2 separate regions of the Homo sapiens genome follow, and region 2 is linked to region 1. The links come from fine-mapping of genetic effects on gene expression. A gene starts in region 1. The other region holds a variant in brackets. All regions are shown on one strand. Distances are from middle to middle.

Region 1 (11,171 bases):
CAGAAAATGGCAATCCGACTTCAGAAGCCCAGCCCTTAAGCTGAGCATCATACTATCTACCACGAGTACCTTGAGATCAGGGGCCACCAGCCCTTACCTCTGAGTCCCCATACCTGATACACTTCTGAGCACACAGTAGGTGTTAAATAAATGCTCTGAATGAATTTAGAAATGGAACTCTCAGCACTGACTCCAAAAACTGAACTCTGCATCTTTCCGGCAGTGATGGACATGCCTCTTCGCAGCCACTTACTTCTGTCCTGAGGCGTGTTGTCCTGGCTAATGTCCCCCTGTGGTTCTAGGCACACGTCACCAAGTAGTGCTGAATCACTGTAACTTCCATGCCACTTCCAGGAGCCTTTTGGAAACACATTCAGAATGGCTACACTTCTCGGTTTCTCTATTAATAGGATTTTTCTCTTTCTTCTTTTTTTTTTAACGGCAGAGAAGGTGGAGAAGGAAAAGATGAAATGACACAAGGGTATCTCACTTCAGATGACCCAAAGGCCTTGGAGCCCCAGGGAAGGAGCAAGGGGTATGAGTCTCGTGGAAGCTCATCTCTTGGAGATGAACATGTCACCCCTGTGGTCTCCCGGGGACTTCAGCAGCCAGTACAAAGCTGAAACACAAAGCAACCAGGCTCAAGATGGATCACATCTATTCGATGCCAGCCTTGGCTTTAACCATCAATAATTTAGGAAAAAGAAGTAGCTCATAAGGAAGCCTCCCCAGGCTTTAAATTAGGAATGAGGTGACCACAACCTCCTCAAAGACTTGTTTTCTTAGAAAAATCCCAGACCATTCTAGTTAAAAGGAGCCTCAGAGATCAACTGGCCCAATCCCCTCACTGCCGAGGCTCCGAGAGGTCGAGGGAGCTGTTACCTGGTCAGGTAACACCCCAGGAAGGGCCAGAGCCGCTTGCCCTCAGCCCCTCCGCCCCAGTTGGCCTTCCAAGGAACCCTCACCCACTGCCAAGCTTACTTCTTCTTCAAATTAAGCCTGACCAGAGCTATTTATTCACTTGAAATATAAGCTCATGGAAAGTCTGATTTCTGAATCCAAGGCATGAAACTCATCCAGGATCACACAGCTCCAAACGGAGAATCCAGCCCCAAAGCGGAGGCCATCAGGCTTCTGACCACAGTTAGCTCATGGTGCCCGCCACCATCACTTACTCAATGCAGTTATTTTAAGTTCCAATGCAACCCATTTACAGCTCTCTCAGTGGAATGAAGTAACTCAAACACTTGGTTTTTGAGCTTGTTAACTTCCTAATTTTATGAAGCCTTAATATTTTAACTCTTTAGCAAAACCAACAGAGCAATAAAAGAAGGCAGCCGACCAGAGCAGGCAGAGACTCATAAACTGCTCAAAAGACCTCCAAGTTTCCAAGTTTCAGGTGACTAAAAGCTGGAGACTCACAAATGTTTCCACCCACCCTGCCCTAAGATGAAGCTCAGGTCCCTGGCACACTTGTTTTTTAACTGACAAAAGGTGTATTTGAATTGCCAATAGTGAAAATGACTCTCGAGCAAACTGCCCACTTTAACAATGGAAAAATACAACCCCAGGGAAGCAGTGATTGTATTTTCCCCCATTGTATTGAATATAAGTTACCTGTGGGCAGTGACTTTGTTTTATTCAACCCTGTCTCCCCAGAGCTCAGTACAGGGTCAGCACTCAGCTAGCAATGATTGCTTGTTTGAGGTTCCCACGAAAGAGTCACCTAAATAAAGTACATTTTGGCACGGGTGCAGTGGCTCACTCCTGTAATCCCAGCACTTTGGGAGGCCAAAGCGGGCGGATCACAAGGTCAGGAGATGGAGACCATCCTGGCTAACACGGTGAAACCCCGTCTCTACCAAAAAATACAAAAAAATTAGCTGGGCGTGGTGGCGGGTGCCTGTAGTCCCAGCTACTCTGGAGGCTAAGGCAGGAGAATGGCATGAACCCGGGAGGTGGAGCTTGCAGTGAGCCGAGATCGCGCCACTGCACTCCAGCGTAGGCGACAGAACGAGACACTGTCTCAAAAAAAAAAGTAAATTTTACAAACATTCCAGGGCTCCAAGAAGTAAAGCAACCATCTAAGCCCTTGGTTCTTCACCAGGTATGTACATACAGCCTCTGCCTTTAGAGGCTCTGGGGTGAGACCAGGAGCAGGCGATCCTAAAAACCTCCAGGGGTGGAGTTTCTGGGCACCCCTGCAGCTTGCAGACCTCCAAGCTTGTCTGGGCTGCTGCATGGAGTAGGGTGGGCTTTCCTGGAGGATGTACTAGCAGGAGAAATGGATGAGGCTTCTGCTGTTTGGGAAGTCTGTTTCAGGTCTCGTTCCTGGCTTCTTGTCCATGTTTTAGCAGAGGTCCGGAATCCCGGCTGGTCTTTTGGGACATGGGGGAATCTGGAAGGGCTTTCTCTCTTCAAGAGCAGTTTGTCTGGATCTCTGGCTTGGAAACAGCCTTCCTACAGTCCCTCGGCTCTTTTTGCTTTTCTTTAGTGAGGGCTGCACTGACGGCAACTGGAGGCAACCTTGTCTTCAGGCTCCTGAGCCTGCAGAGTGAAGGCTGTGATCTGTCCTGTTCCATCTCTAAGCCACAGCCATCTGGAGCCCTGTTTATTTCAGCTATTAGCTGGGGCTTAGCTGGGGTTGGTTTAAAATCTCTGTTGCTCTGTCAACAGCACAGCATGGTGGTTATGAACGAGGCTCTCCATCCAGTTGTGTGGGACCACCAGTCCTGAGCAAGGTACTTCTCTGTGACTTAGCTGCCCAGCTGTAACCCAGGGAAGACTACAGCACTCACTCATAGGACTGTCCGGAGGATCAAATGAATTAGTATGCACCCGGCATAGAATAAGCACAACATATATGTTAGCCCTCATTATTAGTACCCTATTAGTATTTCAATTCCTTTCTTTTTTGTAATCATCTGACCAGTACAGCTGGAGATGACAGATCTTTGTTCTCTAGCTGAATTGTATACTTTCCCATCCAAACCCTGCCAGTGCATTGACTTCTGAAATAGATGATTTGCCTTCATTTCCAGAGCGGTGAGCAGAGATGTTCTCTGAGGTCTATTCAATAAACAGCTTACAGATGAAAGTGCTTTCCTTTGAATGGTGACATGTTCCTCTATCCAAAGATCTACTGTGACCCAAAGTGCTAGTCACCTCCCTGGGGACCCCTGATCTGATGACATTTCTACCTCTCATCCCCTGGCATGCTCTGCCCCAGACAAAGCCACCTTATAATATTTGAAATCGCAGCACCCGCTCCTGCCTCGAGAGCTCTGTCTCCAGATCCGTGTATGACTTGCTCCAACTCCAGGCCTCTAGTCAAGTGGCACCCCTAGAAAAGGCTCATGTCCATGGCAGCTAAAGTGACTCTCCCGCCAATCTTCCAGCCAGAGCAGGCAGCCAATTCACCTCATTTAACAGTGACGTCAAGTGACCTGCCCGTGGGCACCAGCTGTTGAGTCCTGGAGCCTGGCTTGGACTGAATGAAGTCTGCTGGCTCCCAGGCGCCTGTCCTCGGAAACACCTCCGAAAAGTCAAGGGTGGAGTGTGAGATCCAGAGAGGGGGCGCAGCAAAGCAGTGCCTTCCACTAAGGAAAAACAGAATGGCTGTGTATCGCAAGCACCTCCCGTTTGTCTTCATTCATTCATTTATTCATTCACTAATCCACTCGTACCAAGTACCTCCGATGTGCCAGACAGACAAACATGCAAACGGTGTCAGACACCCTACAGAGCTCAATAAATATTTGCAAAAGAAGGAGGGAGGGATAAGAAAAGCATTGTACCCACTCTGTCTCTCCCTCCTTTCAAAGCCACCATGCTTATCCCTCTGTGGCTGTCCCCTCACTGGTACACCGGGGGCCCGCTGTGAGCCCGATGGCCAATGGGGGACCTGTTTTCCTCCACACAGGGACTCAGCCAACTCCAAAACTTGTTAAGCAACTTGCCTCACTAGCAATAAATTAGGCGGCTCGCATGGTGCCAGCAACTCAGGACCCCGTGCGATGAGACCACAAACAGCGAGACCAGTAACAGCTGGCTTGTTTTGGACAAAAACATGCTTTTTCAATGTTGTCGCCTCACACCCAGATTATTGCAGTAGTCTAAACTCTCCACCCTGGATGCATTCCGCACTCCACTGCTAGGTCAGCCCTACACTACACTAGGCTTTGAGTTGCTCCAGTTCAAGAACATCTGCGCACAGGGCACGGGGCACAGCCAGCCTCTTCAGCCCTGGGACTCTGGGCCACCAGCCTGGCTCACTCCTGCTGCCCTCCCAAAACGTTCCCCAGCCACACTGATCTATTCACCTCCAAACAAGTCTTAGGCTTTGTGTATGCTGTTCCCAGCTCTGAGGGGGATGCACGTCCAGCCCACCAGGAAATTTACAGCACCTGACCCCTCTCCCACACCCTTGGAGTTAAGTGCTGGGCTGACTCCTCTGAATGAGGCTGTCTGGGTTTAAATTCCAGCTGAATGACCTTGGGCAAGTTTTTCAACCTTAGCTCCGCTATCTGTAAAACGGGAATGAGAAGCTGGGTGTGGTGGCATCCGCCTGTAGTCCCAGCCACTTGGGAGGCTGAAGCAGGAGAATCATTGAGCCCAGGGGTCGGAGGCTGCAGTGAGCCATGATCACACCACTACACTCCAGCATGGGCGACAGAGGGAGACCCTGTCTCTTAAGAAAAAAAAAGAGAGAGAGAGGAGCAACTGCCTCCTCGTTTGACCAAATGAGGTCACAGAGGTAACACACCCGGCACACAGACTGGGTGCTCAACAGACGTGTGCTATCATCATGCCCCTTCTCGAGTCTGCAGGATCACTTCTCTCCGGGACAACTCTCTACTGCCTGACTAGGCTGAGTTTCCCGAGGGCTGTGCTCCTGTGTTGGTGAAATACGCAATCTCGAATTTCACCCAGTTCGGCTCTGGCATCTTCCCGTCCACGTAAGCCAAACTATGCTAAGCCCTAGTTGGTCACACCGAACCATATTCCTATAAAGTAAACTCTAGACCAGTCCCTCTGCACTGTGCTCCCCTATGCCCCTCTCCTGGCACTGCCCGTGTTGAGGAGGCAGCACTGGGGTCCGGCAGCAGCGGCACGGCTGCGCCCAAGCGCACTGCCAAGCCCCGCTGTCTGGTTCCTACAACGCGGGGCTGGCCGCTGCTGAACTCGATATTATTTTTCCACATGGCCTCTGCCTGAAGATGAGGAGCATCTCTCCGGAAGGTCCCGCGAGAGAGTTAGACATTGCTCCATTCCACTCCTTCCCCCATCACCACCGTCTCCCCTGCCAGAACAGGTCCTGTGTGCGGCTGTAGGAACAGAGGGGTAGACTTCTTCCTCATCACTAACCCGGTCCCTTCTCCGCCTCTGCAGATTTCGTGATCCAAAGCCCGATTCAGCTTATTCAAAAGGAGCCACTTTCATTTTTGTAGGGCTGGCTCAAAACGAGGAAAGCAAGACAGGCAGCAACGCCGCCGAAACGAGAGCGGTGCCAAACCGTTCCCTGCTCGGGGTAGACTTTTTGGAGAAACTCCGGGGCGGGCCGGCAAACACTGTTCCTTTCCAAAAGAGTTACATACAGTTTTCACTGAGCGGTCCCGTGATCAAAGCAGTGAATTTTAAAGGGGACGGAGGACGTAAATAGAAGAAAAAGCAACCGAAATGACTTCTTGTGGTCCTGAAGCCGCTCTGCGAGGCGCCAATTCCCAGTCCTGAACTTCTCTCCTTCCTTTATGCCCCCATTCCTCTTATTTGTCCTGGGGTCCCCGCGCTGTGTGGTTGCCCTCAGGGCACTCCATGGCCGGTCGCCCGGCGTCTCGAGCCCCAGAGTGCAGGCCGGGCGTACTGGCATCGTCTGGGCGCAGAACCGGCCCCGGGCTGGGCGCGAAGCTCGGTTCCGAGGCAGCCCGCGGAAATCCGCCACCCCGGGGCCCACCTGCCTGTCCCCGAGAGTTGCCCTGGCCACCCCACAACGCTTCGCTGCCCCTCAACCTGCCCACCAGTCCCGCAGAAGCAGGTCCGAGCTGGGATGGAGAGAGTGGGGAGCTGCCCAGGAGCGCGGCGGAGTACCTTGGCCGCAGGCTCCGCGCTGCAGGACGATGACCGGCGGCCGGTGCAGCCTCTCGGAGCGGCGGCTGGCGGCGCGCAGCTGGCACAGGTTGGCGTAGGTGTTGGCGTCGCTGCCGCACACCGGCTCGCTGCTGGCGCACACACAGAGGCCGGCCTGCGCGCGCCGCCGCACCGTGGCCGAGGCTGGCACCCCGAAGGGCACCACGCACTGCAGCCCCTCGCCGCACGGGCCCTCCTGCAGGCCGCACGCGGCGCCCTCGGGCGCGCCGCACACCTCGCAGCAGCCGCACGCGTCCCGGGCCCGGCCGCCCTCGCAGTGCTCCGGCTGCGGCGGGCAGCGCGCCGGCTCGCAGCGGTCTGGGCACCCGGCGGCCAAAGGCGCCGAGCGGCCGGCCCGGGACAGCTGCGCCGAGGCGGGCGCCGCCAGCAGCAGCAGCAGCAGCGGGAGAAGAGCGGCGCGCGGGATCTGCATGGCGACTCTGGCGGCGGCGGCGGTGGCGGCGGACAGGGCGAGGGCCGGAGAGCGGCGCCGGGGAGAGTGCAGGAGGGCCTCGGGGGCAGCGGGTGCGAGTGCGCGCGGCCGCGCGGCCCAGCCCATTGGCCTCGCAGCGGTGACGAGCCGCCTTGGGGACGGGCACGGCGCCCGGGATGGGGGCTGGCCGGATGGCGGGAGGGAGGGCGGGCGGCTGGACCGGGACCGCCCGCGGAGGGGGCAGGGCGGGCGCGCCCGGGCACGGCGGTGCTGGCGGGGCGCGGGCGGGGCAGCGCACAGGCCGGCCCTCTCGCGGGACTCAGTTTCCCCGTCTGCGCGCCCCACATATTCGCTTTCCGCAGGTTCTCTCGCTGAGATTCGCGTCCTTCAAACTAATGGAACTTTGCAAGGGGGCCCTGCGGCGGCTTCGCGTGGGAGCGCCGGGGAAAGTTCCTGCAAATCGCCGGACTGGGGGCCCGCCCGGGAAGCTCGGACTGGGCCGGGCAGGGACTGCAGGGGCCTCTGCGCAGACCCGGGGCGTTGCGGCACCGCGGACCCCGGTCACGCGCTGGTTCTGCCCCCGGTACCCCGCACGCGGGACCCTGACCGCGGGGCCTCTGCGGCCGGACGAAGGCAGCGTCCGCGGAGCTGGCAGAAAGCCCGCGCCCAGACCCACAGTGAAGTGATAAAAGCAGAGAGCAGAAGTAATTCGAATAGAATCCTTCACACGTCTGATTCTTTTAAAAAGTTGTTGTGGGTGGCATGCGTGTCCGTATTCGCAGAGAGCCTAGGAAGCGGCTCGGCAGCTCGTAACTGGCGAGGGTGGAGCGGTCTCAGATGGGAAAGGGGTTTTCCCCTCTTTTGATTTTTCACCAAGTGCGTGATTATTTCAAAACACTTGTTATCAAAAATTTGATTTCCCACTGGAGAATCTTTGGTGCATCCGTTGGGACAGATGCGAGTCCGAGAGTCATCAGGAGGGCTGAGGGCGACCCTGGAGGTGGGTCTGGGTGCCCAGGCAGCACCAGGCCTGTGGGCAGTAGTCCTGGGTCCACACTGAGCAGATGGGCACAGCTCGTGTCCAAGGACCTGAGAGGAGGCCCTTCGTCCAGCCCTCATCCCGAACCCTCAAACCTCCACCCCCACCCTGGGCAGAGGCACCCAGGGTTGGGTGAGCCGGCAGAGCTGACTTTGGGATAGAGTAGCATGGGAGGGGGCTGGGGGCTTGGGGATTTTAATATTCTTCTGTATTTGGGTTGTTCCCTTGTGCACACGTTATTTTTCCAATACAAATAGTTTAAAAAGTAAACTCCAAATACCTATAAGCCCCCTCAAAGCACCTTCCAAATATGAACCTTGTTAATGCCCAAGGTCCAGAGGGGTCCCCCAGAAAGGCCCAGGAGCCTGGGGCATGGGAAAGCTGTCGGGGTCCCCATGCTGACTCCCTGGACTCCAAGCGATATTCCATAAAGCCAGGGCCTCCTGGCTGCGGGAGGGAGGCCTTGACCCAAAATCCATTCGGCCCTGGATACTGGAGAGGCAGAGGCCTCTGCTGATGAGAAGCCCTGAGTTCCTGGCTAGCTGTGGTTAACCACAAAAAATGCGGGGGGTGATGATTTTCGAAGTCCATCGGCAAAGAAAGACTCCCCACTGCAGTCCTGGGGCAGATGGAATTAAAAGGACACGTGGTGGTGAATAAATTGGTGATAACTTATTTTTGTCGAATTTCCTTATTTTACAGAGGAGAAAACTGAGGGCCAGAAAGGGTGACTCCCCTGAGTGTCATGCCACAAGTTGAGTGCTGGAGCCAGGACACCTTCCAAACCGGCTGTGCCTGCCTGCAAGCCCCATCCTCCTCCATCCCCCTGAGCAGCCAGACTGCAGAGGGAATGAGCGGACCGAAAACAGTGTGGCCGCAACTTCCCCACTGCTTTGCGGGAGGTGGAGGGAGTTTCTAGGCTCTTTCCCTGTTGGGGAATTAAGTAGCTGGGGATCCCACTGAGTCTCCACCACCCTCTCACCCATTTTCCACCCCTCCCCCACCACATATACATTCTGCTCCCCCAGTGCCAAATAACTTGCATTTTCTGGAACACACCTGTCTGCTTACGGTCTCTGTGCCTTTCTTTGCCCACATCTCCCCTCTTCTTGAAACACCCCTCCTCCCCTCCAGCGTGGGCTCATGTGACCTAGAGAAGCACGTGGGAGCCCTGTCATCTGGGGGACTTGGGTTCAAATCCCACTTCTGGTCCTTAAGTCTGTGACTCTGGGCCTTTGTTTAATAACTGGAGGAGTTTCATTAGGAAAATGGCAGTGACCACATATGTCCCTGGAGTGACTGATGTGCCACCCACAAGCTTCTATTTGGTCAGTGCTGGGTCCCATCGTCCCATCTAGCATGCTCCTCTTCCATCCTCGTGCCCCCACTCAGTGCCATTGTCTCTGCCTCTCACCCTCTGTGCTGCTATTCCTGCCCTCATCACCTCCTCCCTAGGGCAGAGGCCCCGTCTTCTTTACCATGCCCCAGTGCCAGCACAGTGCTTTGGCAAGTTATTCAGCACTGGGGGAGTAGAGTGTATGTGTGGTGGGGGAGGGGGTGGAGAATGGGTAAGAGGGTGATGGAGACTCAGGGGGACCCCCAGCTACTTAATACCCCTGAGGAAGTGTCGGCCGAAGTGGACCCACTCCTGTGACAGTTCACAGCCTAGAAGAGGCGTCTGTAACCACGGTGACCAGTAAGTGCCAGCCCTGGGGCCACGTGGCTGTTCTAGAGAAGGAAGACAGCACTACCCTGAGAGCCATGCTGGTGGCTTCATCAGGAAGGGAGTCAGCAGGGGGAGGACTGGGGGACCAAGCGGTCCCTAAGAAGCAGAATTTGCAATACCCAAGGTTTTAGAAAGAGCAACCTGGCAGGGCCACTGCACAATGAGATCACAGACTCACCTCCCAGCTGTGAGTGCAGCTCACCCCACCTGCTCTGACCCAGGCACCGGTTATGAAGAAGACAAGCAGCTCTACAGAGGGGCCTCAAGAAATCCTTCGAAACAGAAATCAAAGTCTTGCTGGAAGGGTTCTGGGCACCCTGGACTGTCCACATGGGAGGCTGTTGGTGCGTGTGCCTACGTGTGTCCATCAGTGGATGCACGAAGAAGGAAATGGTAAGTCCATTGAAACCTGGCCTCGTGGGCCCATCTCTGACCTTCCCTTAGTCCTAACGTCTCCATATCTGGAGGTAATGCTTTCAACCTGCAAGCGTTGCTCTTTCTTTTAGATTCTTCCCCATCTGCTGCCATTTATAAAGACGTTTTCTTAAAAGAAGCATTTTTCTTTTGATACATCATGAAAACTCATTTCTCACTCACCAGGCCTTGGCACGGTATTCTAGAGAGGATTTTTCCAGAGGAAAGGGGGCAGTTTTGAAGCCAAACAGACGAGTTCCCCAACATCCTCTCTGCAGCCCTCATTTGCAGCATTGAAGCTTTAGTTTTGAACAGGGCCAAGTCTATTCATGAATAATGAACAATGAAACACCACAGATGCCAGAGCCTTAATCAGGAAACGAGGCTTCTGAATAGGAATGGAGCAGCCATGTTTGTGCTGCCCAGGAGGACGATTTCCCACTCCGGGCCTCTGTTCTCCCAAATGTACAAAGGACCCAGAATGCTCAGGGGCTCCTATTGCCTTTCCTAAGTCACAGGATCTAAGATCTAAGGAGCTACAGTAATAATTTTGGCTCCTCCTATAAGCTTAGCCTATCCCTCTACTGCTCAGTAGTTTCCAGGGGCTCTCCATGCCAGTAGAATGAAGTCCAAGCTTCTTACCCTGACTTCCAGCGTCCCCCATGCCCCTCAAGCCAGGTTGTCCTCTAGATCCAGGGTGGTGTAATCCATCCCTACTCACCCATTCTCCCATAGCAACAGAACCCTGGCTGGGGCCATGCCAGCAGGTAAAAGATGACTTCTCAGCTGGTTTCACCCCCTTTCCTCAGAGTGCCAGACCCACTCCCATCCCCTCTGGCCACCCCAGCATCAGAGGTCGTAACCTCCTTTAACAGCAGGTACACCCTGATGACAAACCCACATCAGTTCAGTTAGGTTCGGTTCAGGAAAAATTTCCTGAGCCCCTGCCACAGGGTAGACACTGCTAGACACTGTAAAGCAGTGTCGAATGATCAAGCCCCTGTCCTCAAGAAGCTCAAAGTCTAGAATTTTCTGCAGTGATGGAAATAATCTCTATCTGTGCTGTCCAAGAGGGTAGCCACTAACTACATGTGACTGCCAAGCATTTGAAATGCAGCAAGTGCAAGGATGATCTGAATTTTTATTTAATTTTAGTTAATGCCTATCACCCGGGAGAGAAAGGAGGGCAAGAAAACAAAGGCAGGATGACAGGAGGGAATGCAGTGACAGAGAGGAATCCAGATGTTAGGAGAAGATTGGGCTGCATCTCAAGGGTTGAGAAAGATTTCACCAGCTGCACAGAGCAGAAGATGCATCCAATTGGTGATGACGTGATGAGTCCGCCCAGGTGGGGAAATTCCAGGTTGCACAGTGTGGCCGCAGGTGGGAAGAGAGTCCTGTGGACAGTTGAGGCAGCTGGAGGGAAGGGGACC
Region 2 (11,171 bases), 81 kb before region 1:
CTAAAACATGTTAATGACCACAGTGAGAGAGGAAGGGAACAGCACATTAAAAGTACATCTCAATTGCGAGACAATTCCAAATTTCACATTAAAAATTGCATAAAAGACATGCATATGAGAATTAGCAAAATGGATTTATTAGAAATGGCTCTCTTTTTATATTTTTTTCCCAGTACAAGAATTTAGAGGCCCCCTAATCAATGGCTCTTATTTTTTGAGGAGGAAATTGAGATCCGAATGGCACCTGCTGCCTCTTTACGGGTTTCCAATGGTTTATCACCTTGTAACTCCTTGATAAGGCACTGCCTTTCTAGTCGCAACTGTTAGAAAGCTAGTAGGTGAGTAGAGATAAGATACGAAGAGGGAAAGAGAGTCAGATTTTTCTACACTGGCTTCCTGGTTAGACTACGAACCTACTTTCTTCTCAACGCTTTGTGGCCCAAAGGTTAGGAGGCCCTTTCTGAGGATACAGGAGATAAGTTCCAGGACCTTCTGGAAAGTGTCTTAACTGAACCATAGAAACTTACAGAGAGTAAGAGATCATTAAAAGTCCTTTTTGTGTTTCTATGTTGCTAAATGCAGTGGCAGACTGACAGTTTGCTCAAGACTGATTCCAAATTCGGGGCCATGAGCTGTGCTGGGCAGTATATAAGCATCATCGGGTGTGTTGGTTTAAAATTTGCATGCCTGGGCCTCACACCCCACGGATTTTCATATGCTAAGGTTGATATAAGGCCTAGAGATTTTTTTCAAGCTTCCCAGGTTATTTTAATTGTGGTGAAATAGACACAATTCCCAGGCGAAGGTGATGCATGGCCAGGTGTGTGAGAACTGAGGCCTACAGATGCTGAGCATGCCCGCCTGGCTACAAACCCAGGTGGAGATTCACATTGATGCAGTCTCATATTCATTTGGGAATAGAAGAAAGGAAGTTTGGGCTGCAAGGCAGTGATCTCAAAGAGCTCATAGAGGACTCTGTATTTAATTCAGTAGGAAATGGGGAGCTCTGGCAGGTTCTTGACGAATTTTATAAAGTGGTCAGAGATGAATTTTATAAAGACAGAAGATAGAATAAGAAATGGCGGTGTGTCTGTATTGAGATGCATGGAGATGCACACATTTCTTGAGCACAACTGCACCAAATAGCCTGTGCCAGGGGTCTGGAAAGCTGCAATCCCAGCCTGAGGAATTTATAATCCAGCTGGGGAGAAAAGTCACTGGTGCGTTGGAAAATAACCGATGAAAACCACTAAGCCACTTCAAGACCTGTGAATCAGAACTGGCACTAGAGATGTGCACTACAAACCTCAGAAGACACTTGATTTTAAGAAAAAAAACTTAGGTGAAATCAAAGACCTCTGTAAGCTTGAATTTGGAGAACAGCTAAGAGTTAGATGGACGATAGTGAAAGATTTCTGAGACAGTACCTGGCAGTGCCTAGACATTCATAAGTTCGAATCTTCATTTATGTCATGGATTACTTTTTTAGAAATAGAAAACCACTGGTTGTTTTGAATTATTACTTGAAGAAATTGTTTTTTAAATTTAAAGGTGAAAATAAAGCCACTAACAGAGCCCAGGTTGTCTGTCATGCTGTATCAGGAGGGCAGCATGTGCCAGTGCCTGGCAGAAGCCAGGACTGCATGGATTTGAGGGATTGGATGACGCTTCCCAGAGCAGTGTAGGGCTTACTCTGGGCCCCATGGGATGCTGTCAAGATGATCCTTCACATTCCTGGGAAACATGTCCTCAGATCTTACAAGTGTCTGACCACAAACCACTTTAGAAAATTCCAGGCCAGGCACGGTGCCTCACACCTGTAATCCCAGCACTTTGGGAGGCCGAGGCAGATGAATTACTGGAGCCCAGGAGTTCGAGACAACGTGACAAAACCTGGGCAACGTGACAAAACCTTGTCTCTACAAAAAAATTAGCTGGGCGTGGTGGAGCACACCTATAGTCCCAGCTACTTGTAGGGGGCTAAAGCAAGAGATCGCTTGAGCCTAGGAGGTCGAGGCTGCAAAGAGCCAAGATCATGCCACTGTACTGCAGCCTGGGTAACAAAGTGAGAGCCTGTCTCAAAAAAAAAAAAAAAAAAGAAAGAAAGAAAAGAAGAAAGAAAATTCTAATGTCTTGACAAGAAAGCAGTTAGCATGAGTTTAAAATGAGGTATAATTTGATTCATACTTGGACTTAAAATGGTCTCTTCAACAAATTGCTGCAACAAGTGATCAAAATGTAATTCCCAAACCATTTTAAATTTTACAATGAAATAACAAAAGAAAGTCTAATTTTTTTAGAAGCAAGGGCCTTGCTATGTTGCCCAGGCTGGTCTTGAACCCCTGGACTCAAGCAATCCTCTCCCCTCAGCCTCCTGAGCAAGAGTTACCATGCCTGGCTCCATTCTTTTTTTAAGGATAATATGTTTCATTTTTAAAGAGCAAAATATATTAAGGGAAGCTTTTACTTTACATTTTTTATAAAATAACCCTTCCAAACAAAGGTGTTTAAGAAGGATGATATGTTTGTATTTTTATCACATGCAGTGGAGATATTCAGATGGAAAAATCTCCACATTAATCTTCCTTGATTCAATCAAACCATGCCACAAACCTCCCATTCCCCAGTGTTGCTTAGGAGGCCCACATCCATCATCCTCAGGGGTCCTCCTGCCTCCTCGGATCATGCCAAGGTCCCAAATGTGGTCTCGTGTGCTTCAGCCCCGACCCCGTCTCTCCCTGTGGTTCTCTGACGCTGTATTGAAACCTGGTCCTCTCCAGTCTGCCCGTCACTGCAGCCTTGTAGAAGCAGATCTTGTGTGACATGCTTCCTGCCCAGGCCAGTTGGCTCAAGCAGTGGTGGGTGACTCTACTGTCCAAGCATCTGGGTTTAGTGCCCATGCCTCTGCTGGCCCCCAGGTGGCCAGCCCCAAAACTCTGCTCTGTGATTTAAAGTAACCATAGCACTCTGTTACTGAAGAAGGACCCACGCAAGTTTTCGTCCTGGAGCAGGGAAAGATACTACTAAGGCAGGAGAATGGCATGAACCCGGGAGGCAGAGGTTACAGTGAGCCGAGATCGCGCCACTGCACTCCAGCCTGGGCGACAGTGCGAGACTCCGTCTCAAAAAAAAAAAAAAAAATTAAGGTGCAAAGACAAAAAGTAAGTTTGCGTTTTGATTATACCATGGATTATGTTTATTCAATGTATCAACCATACTAGTGAATTTCTAAAGGATAAATATAACTTTCAAATAAGGCACAAAATAATAAAATGAACAACATACCATCATACATAGGCACCCACCTAATCCCAAAGGATTTATGGGTCACATGTCACCCCTAGAAATGTTCTTCATTACATTCTTCTTCACATAACAAAACCGTCCCAGAATATGTAGCATTCTGTGAATGAAACTCTATTTTTATGGGAACTTAGGGAGGTTGGCTGTGAGGACTCCCTTTGTACATTGAAAAATCATTTCCTAGCTATTTGGGGGTGGAGATTAGTCTGGCTTCCTAAGCATCAGCTTGCTCAAAGAAATCTTTAAAGTTCTCTTTCCATTTTAGCTGAGAAAATAGAAATAAAAATGGCAGTTGGGTTGGCCTTCTAACAACAGAGGCTGGGTGTGGTGGCTCACGCCTGTAATCCCAGCACTTTGGGAGGCCTGAGGCATGAGTTCAAGGCCAGCCGGGCCACCATAATGAGACCCTGCCTCTAGAAAAAAAAAAAAAAAAACTTAAAAATTAGCCAGGCATGGTGGCGTGTGCCTGCAGTCTTAGCTAGTCAAGAGGCTAAAGTGGGAAGATCGCTTAAGCCCAGGAGTTCCAGGTTACAATGAGATTGCACCATTGCACTCCAGCCTGGGCGACAGAGACCATGTCTCTTAAACAAGAGAGCAGGAGTACCCAGCCTTAAACCCACAGGAAGAAAGAAGGCCCCATTCCTTCATGCATATTCAATACCCCTTTTCTTCTCTGCTTAGAAACTGCCCCACCTGAAGTTGAAGGGTCCCTTAAATACCAGGATCTGAGAGCTAACAAGGATGTCAGCAAACATTCAAGCCCAGTCCTTCTTCCTCTCCTCATTCTAGAGATGAGAAGACAGAGCTCAGAGAAGCCAGACCATGGTGCCCAAATTCAAACTAATGGCTGCAACACTTCCTGCCCCCCATGGCATCATTCAGCCTCGGGAAAGGTCTCCCAGGGAAGGGGCTTCTGTGGGCCATGGCAGGGAGTTGCTTGTCATTCCAAGGCAGAAGCCCATTGTGGGGCCCCAGTTTCTCCTCCTTTGCATCAACACAGTTCAGCTGGGGGATGCATGGACAGGAAGGGGATGGGAAAGTGACAGGAGGCCACCATGGCCTCCATGGGAGAAGTGCCATCTCACTCAGCTTCCACACTGTGCAAGGGGCCATCTCCAGGTGACTGTTCCAGAAGAAGGACTGAGCCACCTATCTGCCTATTAATGAGTATCCACAGCAGGACCCCCACCGCACCCCGGAAACCCGGTGCAAGGGGCGGATTACGTCAGCTCTCTTTGTGGGGCAATGACTGTGACTGGAGTGGCTAAGGACTTGAGGGCAGCTTCCTGTTCATGCTACCAACGCAAGTCACCCAGCCCCCCTCAATCACCCTCAGCTCTGTCACCTCACACAGTCAGTGCCCACAACTTATTGCTCCTCTCCGCAAGGCCTTACTCTTTTCCCACGGTCTTCCTGGTCAGTCTCCTTCTCTTTCCTTCTGGCTTGGCCTGGCTTTCTTTCAGGGCCTTCTTGGTTACCCTCTCACCAGCCTACTCCACACCTGGCAGCCTGGTCTCAGAATTCAGACTGGGTATTGCTGACGAGCTGTGGGCATCTTGTCCCTGGCATGGCTACCAGGCCTGAGACTGCCTGCTACACTAGCCCCTGCCTGTCTTCATGCTAACTACTTTCCCGTTGGCATGCATGCACCTGGCATGGGTATTCTCCCTCAGGACCTCTTTCACAGCCTTCCTATGCCGCTCCCACTGTTTCTCTTTGCCTCCGGGAGGCATCCAGAATGTTGCAGCCATCTGTCACCATGAGCTCTGAAATGACACCTAAAGCTGCAGAGTGTGCATTCAGATGCTCTTCGTTAGGGCATCTGGCCGGGGCTTGCCAGCCACAACTGTCTTCATCACAGATCACATATCTGTAATATCTGAGGATCTCTTGACAAGAAGGGACTTGGTAAGAAGCCAACTTATCTACCTCTCAGTCTTCCAGTTAAAACACCTCTTGAACCACCCCCAGATGGTAAAATCTACATGTTTTCAAACATTTACAACATGAGCTTCCACAACTCTTAGTCACCCTTTTTTATGGGGAACAATGCACAAAAGTCATGAGATAAACGTTGTTAGCCACTGCCCAAAATGAAGAAAGGAAAATGCTCGTCTCTCTCTGTCCCGGCCCTGCTGGGGCAATATCCCCTCTGTCTTCCTCTGAGACCTGCAGAAACAGGATTGGGCTGGACTGGCCAATGGTCATGCTCCCTCACCTCTCACCTGGCTAAGCTGCAGCCTCTCCCCTAATTAAGCACATGTGCACGTGTGTGCATGCACAAACACACCCAGAGAACAAAAAGAGATTCAGATGGAAGCCAAATATGAAATGAAGCCTATCATTCAGGGTTTTTTTTTTTTTCAAAATTCATTTTGAATTTCATATTTCAGCAGCAGCAC[G/A]CTCAGGTTCACATATTCTAAGAATGTATCTCCTGCCACATAACATGCTTCATGTTGCCTTTCCTTGTTCTAAATGAGCCACATTCATGGACTTCAAAGAATAACTGTTTTAACATTTCCCCTTTCCTGATTTTATAAACTTTTCTTCATTCCCACTCCAGCTCATCTTTCTATTCCTTAGTGTCTTCCTTTGTCTGTCTTTGGATGGTGGCATATCTATATGTATGAGCAACATTTTCATCCTTTGACCATGCTCACTTCCAGTGTTCCTTAAAAAGTCACGATTATGGGCCTTTGTGTTCACGCACACAGCCTGCGGAGAGTCTCTTGCACTTTCTCTTGGCCCCTCTCCCAAAGATCCTAGTGGCATTTAATCATTTGTCTTTTGGAGGGTTTTTGCTCTTTTCTTCATTCTCTTCCACTGTGGATTAGAGGAATTGTGCTGATAGTGCTGACATCCCATATGTCACAGCATCCATGACTAGAGAGGACAAGCCCTCTTTTTTTCTGTTCCTATTCAAAAAATTGGTGAAGGATTCTGATTGGGCTAATTTAGGTCATATGCTTACCCTTGAGCCAATCAGCTAAGTAAGGCCACCTGTGGCATCTTCAAGACCATGGCAATGCCCACTCAAATGGATAGAGCAGTTTCCAGAAGCAATTGAAAATCTCTTCTCAAGAGAACTGAAGACAAAGTACTCAAAACAATAGATACACAATAATTAGCCAGGCATGGTGGTGGGCACCTGTAATCCCAGCCACTCAGGAACCTGAGGCAGGAGAATCGCTTGAACCCTGGAGACAGAGGTTGCAGCGAGCCAAGATCAAGCCACTACACTCCAGCCTGGGTGACAAAGCAAGATTCTGTCTCAAAAAAAAAAAAAAAGACACTCAAAGTATTTGTAAGCCTGCATGTAGGTGTAGTGAGCTATGATAACATTGCTGCCTGAAGACATGTTTACACATAATAAACACATCACAAAGAAGTTATCAAAATGCCAGTAACTACTACACTCATTTGGGATAGATACTGAATAACTTTAAGTTTTTCTAGAAAAAAGTTAGAGTTAAGTATTAATTTAAAATGTAAAATTTAAGGGTAAGAATTAAAAATAAGAAATGCACAATTTACAGCTTCCACATCAGCAAAGGAAATAGAAAGGGGAACACTAATAAACTTCAAAGACAGGCTGGGAAAGAAATGCAAACAACAAGGATGGTAAATAGAAAATACAGAAGATGTTTGAAATAAAGTTTAAATGTATAAGAAATCACACTAAACAGAAATGGATTAAACTAACTTTTTAAAAGAGACTATCCATATGTATTTTTTTAATCAGGCTGCTTCTGTCCTATCTATAAAAGTTATGCCTAAAACAAAATGACATAGAAAGATTGGGAAAAGATGTACTATGCAAGTACTCAACAAAAGTTTGCATGGTGATATTAATTTATAGTAAAATATTATGTAATTTATAGTAAAAATTATTAACAGACATAAAGAGGATGGCTACATAAGAATAAAAGAAACATTGCACCAAAATTTGGTTGCATCTACCAAAATAATCTTGAAACATCCTGAGCAAAACCTCACATAATTGCAAGCGGAAATTAATAAAACCACAACCATCATGGGAGATTTTAGCTCAGACACTATACATCAAGCAAGCACAAAATTCGTGAAAATATAGAAAGGTTATATATGAAAGGGAGCTAGTCACCAAATCATGATTGAAATCCAACCTGTGATGCAATTTTAGGCAAGTTATAAAAAACAGAAGCGTTCACACTGTAAGCCCATTGTCAGCGCCCTTTCTCTTATCACTCTGAAAATCATTTACCCATGAACAGCATGACTGAAAAACTATTGCTGCCAGGAAATGATTAAATAATCTGGATTACAACACACATTTACAAAACTTGCCAAAGGGTGACAGTTTTGTAAAAACAAGAGGAAGGCAGTCCTTGGCTTTTTATCATTTTATTGATTTGAAAAAATGGTATCAGGCTTAAGGAACATCTCCCATAGTCTCTGCCCGAAGACTTGCCACCTACTGACTGGCGGACTGGTCACTCAGGAACTCTTTCTAGGGCAGGGCTTTCCGCCTAGAATTTTCGCAGGATCTTAAAGAATAAAAGACTCAAAACAACACTAAAGATTACAATAGAATTTTCATGCTGCCTATGAAAGCATCCACAGTTAGTGTGATATTCCCTTGACTGCTGTTTACCAGCATATCCCTGGTCAGGAATGTTTATTGCCCTGTCTGGACTCTTTTCTATACTCATGTTCACATCTGGCTCAGGCTCAATTTTACACTAAGCCTCTTAACTCTTCCTTGGAAGAAAGGTCAGGAGAAAAGCTACTTCACTTCAAATGTCCGGCTTCATTCAATGAGCCTGTGATGAACACTATCAGAACAATATATATCATTTATTTTAACAAAAGTTATTTCATATGTTGATCCAAATCCATTGACCCTTTTGAGAAGAATTTATAACACATCAAGAGGCCATGGCCCAACACTTGAGAACCACAGTCCTAGGGTCTCGCCATCCTTACATCCTTTCTGATGCTTCATAACACACAACATTTTGCTTTAGTTTAAACTAGCTCCTGGAAGACAAATGAAGAGTTAATCCGCATCATCCATTCACTAATAAATTATAGAATACCTACTCCATGTCAGGTCTTGGCCCAGGCATTGAGAGTCAGCATGAATAAAATAAGGTCCCTGAAGAGCTTACGATGCAGGTGGGGAGACCTAGGCAAGCAGGTAATAACAACACAGTGCAATCAGGTAACCAAAGAGACCATGAGGGCACCTAGGAGAGTCCCCTTGCTGGAGAGAGTGGCACAGAGTAAGAGCATCAAGTCCTGAAGGCGGTAGCTGGGCCAAGTCATGAAAGAAGAATAGGCAGAAAGGAAGCGGGGGGCAGGTAGTGACAATGGGGAGAGCATTAGGGCAGAAGGTTTAGCATGCGCAGCGCGGAAAGATAGCAGCAAGCACCAGACACTGGGAGGATTGTGAGTGCAGAAGAAAGTCTAGGAAGTGAGTGGTGAGAGATGAGGCTGCAGAAGCCAGCAGGAACCAGGCACAGCCTTGTGTGCACCCTGAACAAGGAGAGACGCACATGCCTGGCCCTACAAGGAGGCTTAGCTTCATCTCTACAGCAGTTCTTCGTGGATCTGGAGACTCAAAATAGCCTGCTTCTTTGTCTTATCTTCTTGGGGCTTTGAATCAATTCTTTAGCCTTTTGTCCTGTATTTCCAGCTGCCATGAGAAGAATCTTCCAGACATCTTCAATGCCCTTGGCCTAAAGCACAGACTTCCAAGTTTGACATTCCAGGTGTTACGCCAACTCCAGGCAGCCCACCTGCCTCTCTGCAGACTTTCTTCTCCTACCCACCTGTGTCCTAGTAACAGCACTTACTCTTCTCCAGCTCTTTTCAATTGCTTGCAGCAGCCTAGCTCTACCTCTGTAGCCACATTCACTGTCCAGGACTCACCTCGAGCTGCCCCCTTTGGTGGAGCATAAGAAAATGTCTTCCCAATAATTTGGCATTTTCTATGCGCCACCTGGCATTGTCAAATTTCTTCTCATATGTTTACTTCTCATGTCCTGAGCTCCTGGAGGTGGCAAATGTGCTCTGAAAGACACATTCTACATTTCAAAAAGTCAGTTGGGTTAGTATAGATCAAAGCCTGAGTTGTGCTCTCTCGTTGTTAAATGGGAGCACCTTGGTTGTTAGACAGTGGTAGAGGCTAACCCCAAACTGAGATGTCTTGACCTAACAGACAAGTGCAGGACACCTGAAAAGGACCCACTTCCTCCCAGTGAGATTCCACCTATTTAATGCTGATTCCTCCACTGTCAAGATCATCTCCAGGCCCGGTGACCCAGAGATCTTGGGTCACTGAATGGAAAACATGAAGACTATTTACCTCTGAAAGTGGCAATGTACATTTATGAGGTGACCTTCCTCTTTTTCTGTATAAATTTTGGTATTGTTCAAATCTATGGCACATACATAACATACATACATAAGAAAAACAATTATTGAAGTTTTTGATTGCAAAATAATCAAGAAGCTCATAAAAATGATGCCATAGTTGGATGATGTAGGAGGTTGTTTGTTATTCCCAAACACCTCAGCACCTGGGGTACAGAGATGAGTAAAAAAAAAAAAAAAGAATATCAATCCTGCCATTTTAGAGATCAGTGTGCATGCATGTGTGAGTGGCTGTGTGCACATGTGGGGCTTTTAAATGAATGGTCAAAAGAGGGGTGTGAGGGAAGAGAGAAAGACTAAGAAAGAACATGTAAGAAGCAGAAACACCAGCACAGACCAGGATATGGAAGGATATGGAAGTCCTTCCTCTAGCTCTTGAGAGAAACACTCATTTCTTAAAGCAGGAAAAGACCCAAGAAGGATGAAGTCTCAAAGTTTTTGGAGGAAGTTCTTAGGAAAAGGAATGGATTCTCCTTGTTGTACCTCCAGAGAGGAGAACTGGAAGTAACACCAGGTGGATGTTGCAGAAAAGTAAAATACAACGCATCCTGGGAAGGTGCTTTCTCCCAGGTCAAGAGTTTCCAGGGGGCTGTGTGGAGCACGAGCTCCCAGTCCCGTGAAGTGTTGGAACCACGTGTGAAGGCCATCCAGCAGCATATAGGCTCCAGTGACCTCCAGGGCCATCCAAGGCAGTGTGGTACAGCAGAGAGCACTAGGGTTTCCCCTTTTCCCCTACTTCTCATATCTCCCATATACAATCCATAGACACGTCCTGGTGGTGCCAGAGCCAAAATATATCCCAACCCATCTTTGCTGCCAGCTTCCAGCGTCCCAGTCCAAGTTGTTCCCTTCCCCCCTGGAAAGCTGTTGTCCTGGCCTCAACTCTTAGTACTCTGTGGTAGGCTCTCCCCACAGCAGCCAGAGTGGTGTTTCTTTATTTTGTGTGTGTGTGTGTGTGTGTGTGTGTGTGTGAACAAATACTTATTTGTTTATGTGTTTTCATTGATAAATGAAAATTGTATATATTTGTCATGTACAACATGTTATTTTGAAGTATGTATACATTGTGGAATGGCTAAATTGAGCTAATTGACATATGCGTAACCTCACAGACTTATTTTTTGGTAGTGAGAACACTTAAAATCTACTCTCAGCAATTTTCAAGAATACAATACATTGTTATTAACTATAGTCACCATGTTTTACAATAGATCTCTTGAACTTATTCCTCCTAACTGAAATTTTGCATTTGACCAACATCTCCCCAACACTCCCCACTCCCAGCCCCTGGTAACCACCATTCTGCACTGCTTCTGTGAGTTCAGCTTTTTAAAAATTCCACATATAAGTGAAATCACGCAGTATTTTTCTGTGCCTGGCTTATTTCACTTCATGAAATGTCCTCCAGATTCATCCATGTTGTTGAAAATGATCGGATTTCTAGTTCTGTG

Direction of the effects. Positions count from the first base shown, and alleles are read on the strand shown. Sizes are in standard deviations (SD) of each study's normalised expression.
For the expression in whole blood of the gene that starts at base 6,659 in region 1, allele A in region 2 goes with a higher level than allele G (large effect, 0.92 SD a copy in Lepik 2017).

The links. PIP is the estimated chance that this variant, and not a neighbour inherited with it, causes the effect. A credible set is the group of variants that fine-mapping cannot tell apart.
Region 2: its variant is the best candidate, but not a certain one, in a credible set for the expression of HTRA1 in whole blood (Lepik 2017, PIP 0.81).

The regions. Positions count from the first base shown.
Region 1 is chr10:122,457,041-122,468,211 of GRCh38, reverse strand. It overlaps HTRA1 (HtrA serine peptidase 1), which reads right to left and starts at 6,659. Exons shown (of 9, transcript NM_002775.5): 1 at 6,088-6,659. The coding sequence starts at 6,559. ARMS2 (age-related maculopathy susceptibility 2) reads right to left here. Exons shown (of 2, transcript NM_001099667.3): 2 at 10,860-11,171. HTRA1-AS1 (HTRA1 and ARMS2 antisense RNA 1) reads left to right here and starts at 6,807. Exons shown (of 3, transcript XR_946382.3): 1 at 6,807-7,263; 2 at 8,301-9,717.
Region 2 is chr10:122,538,105-122,549,275 of GRCh38, reverse strand. No RefSeq gene overlaps it. Among named protein-coding and RNA genes, the nearest start is that of DMBT1, 17 kb to the left of the region's middle. The variant G/A (reference allele first, on the strand shown) is at 5,706.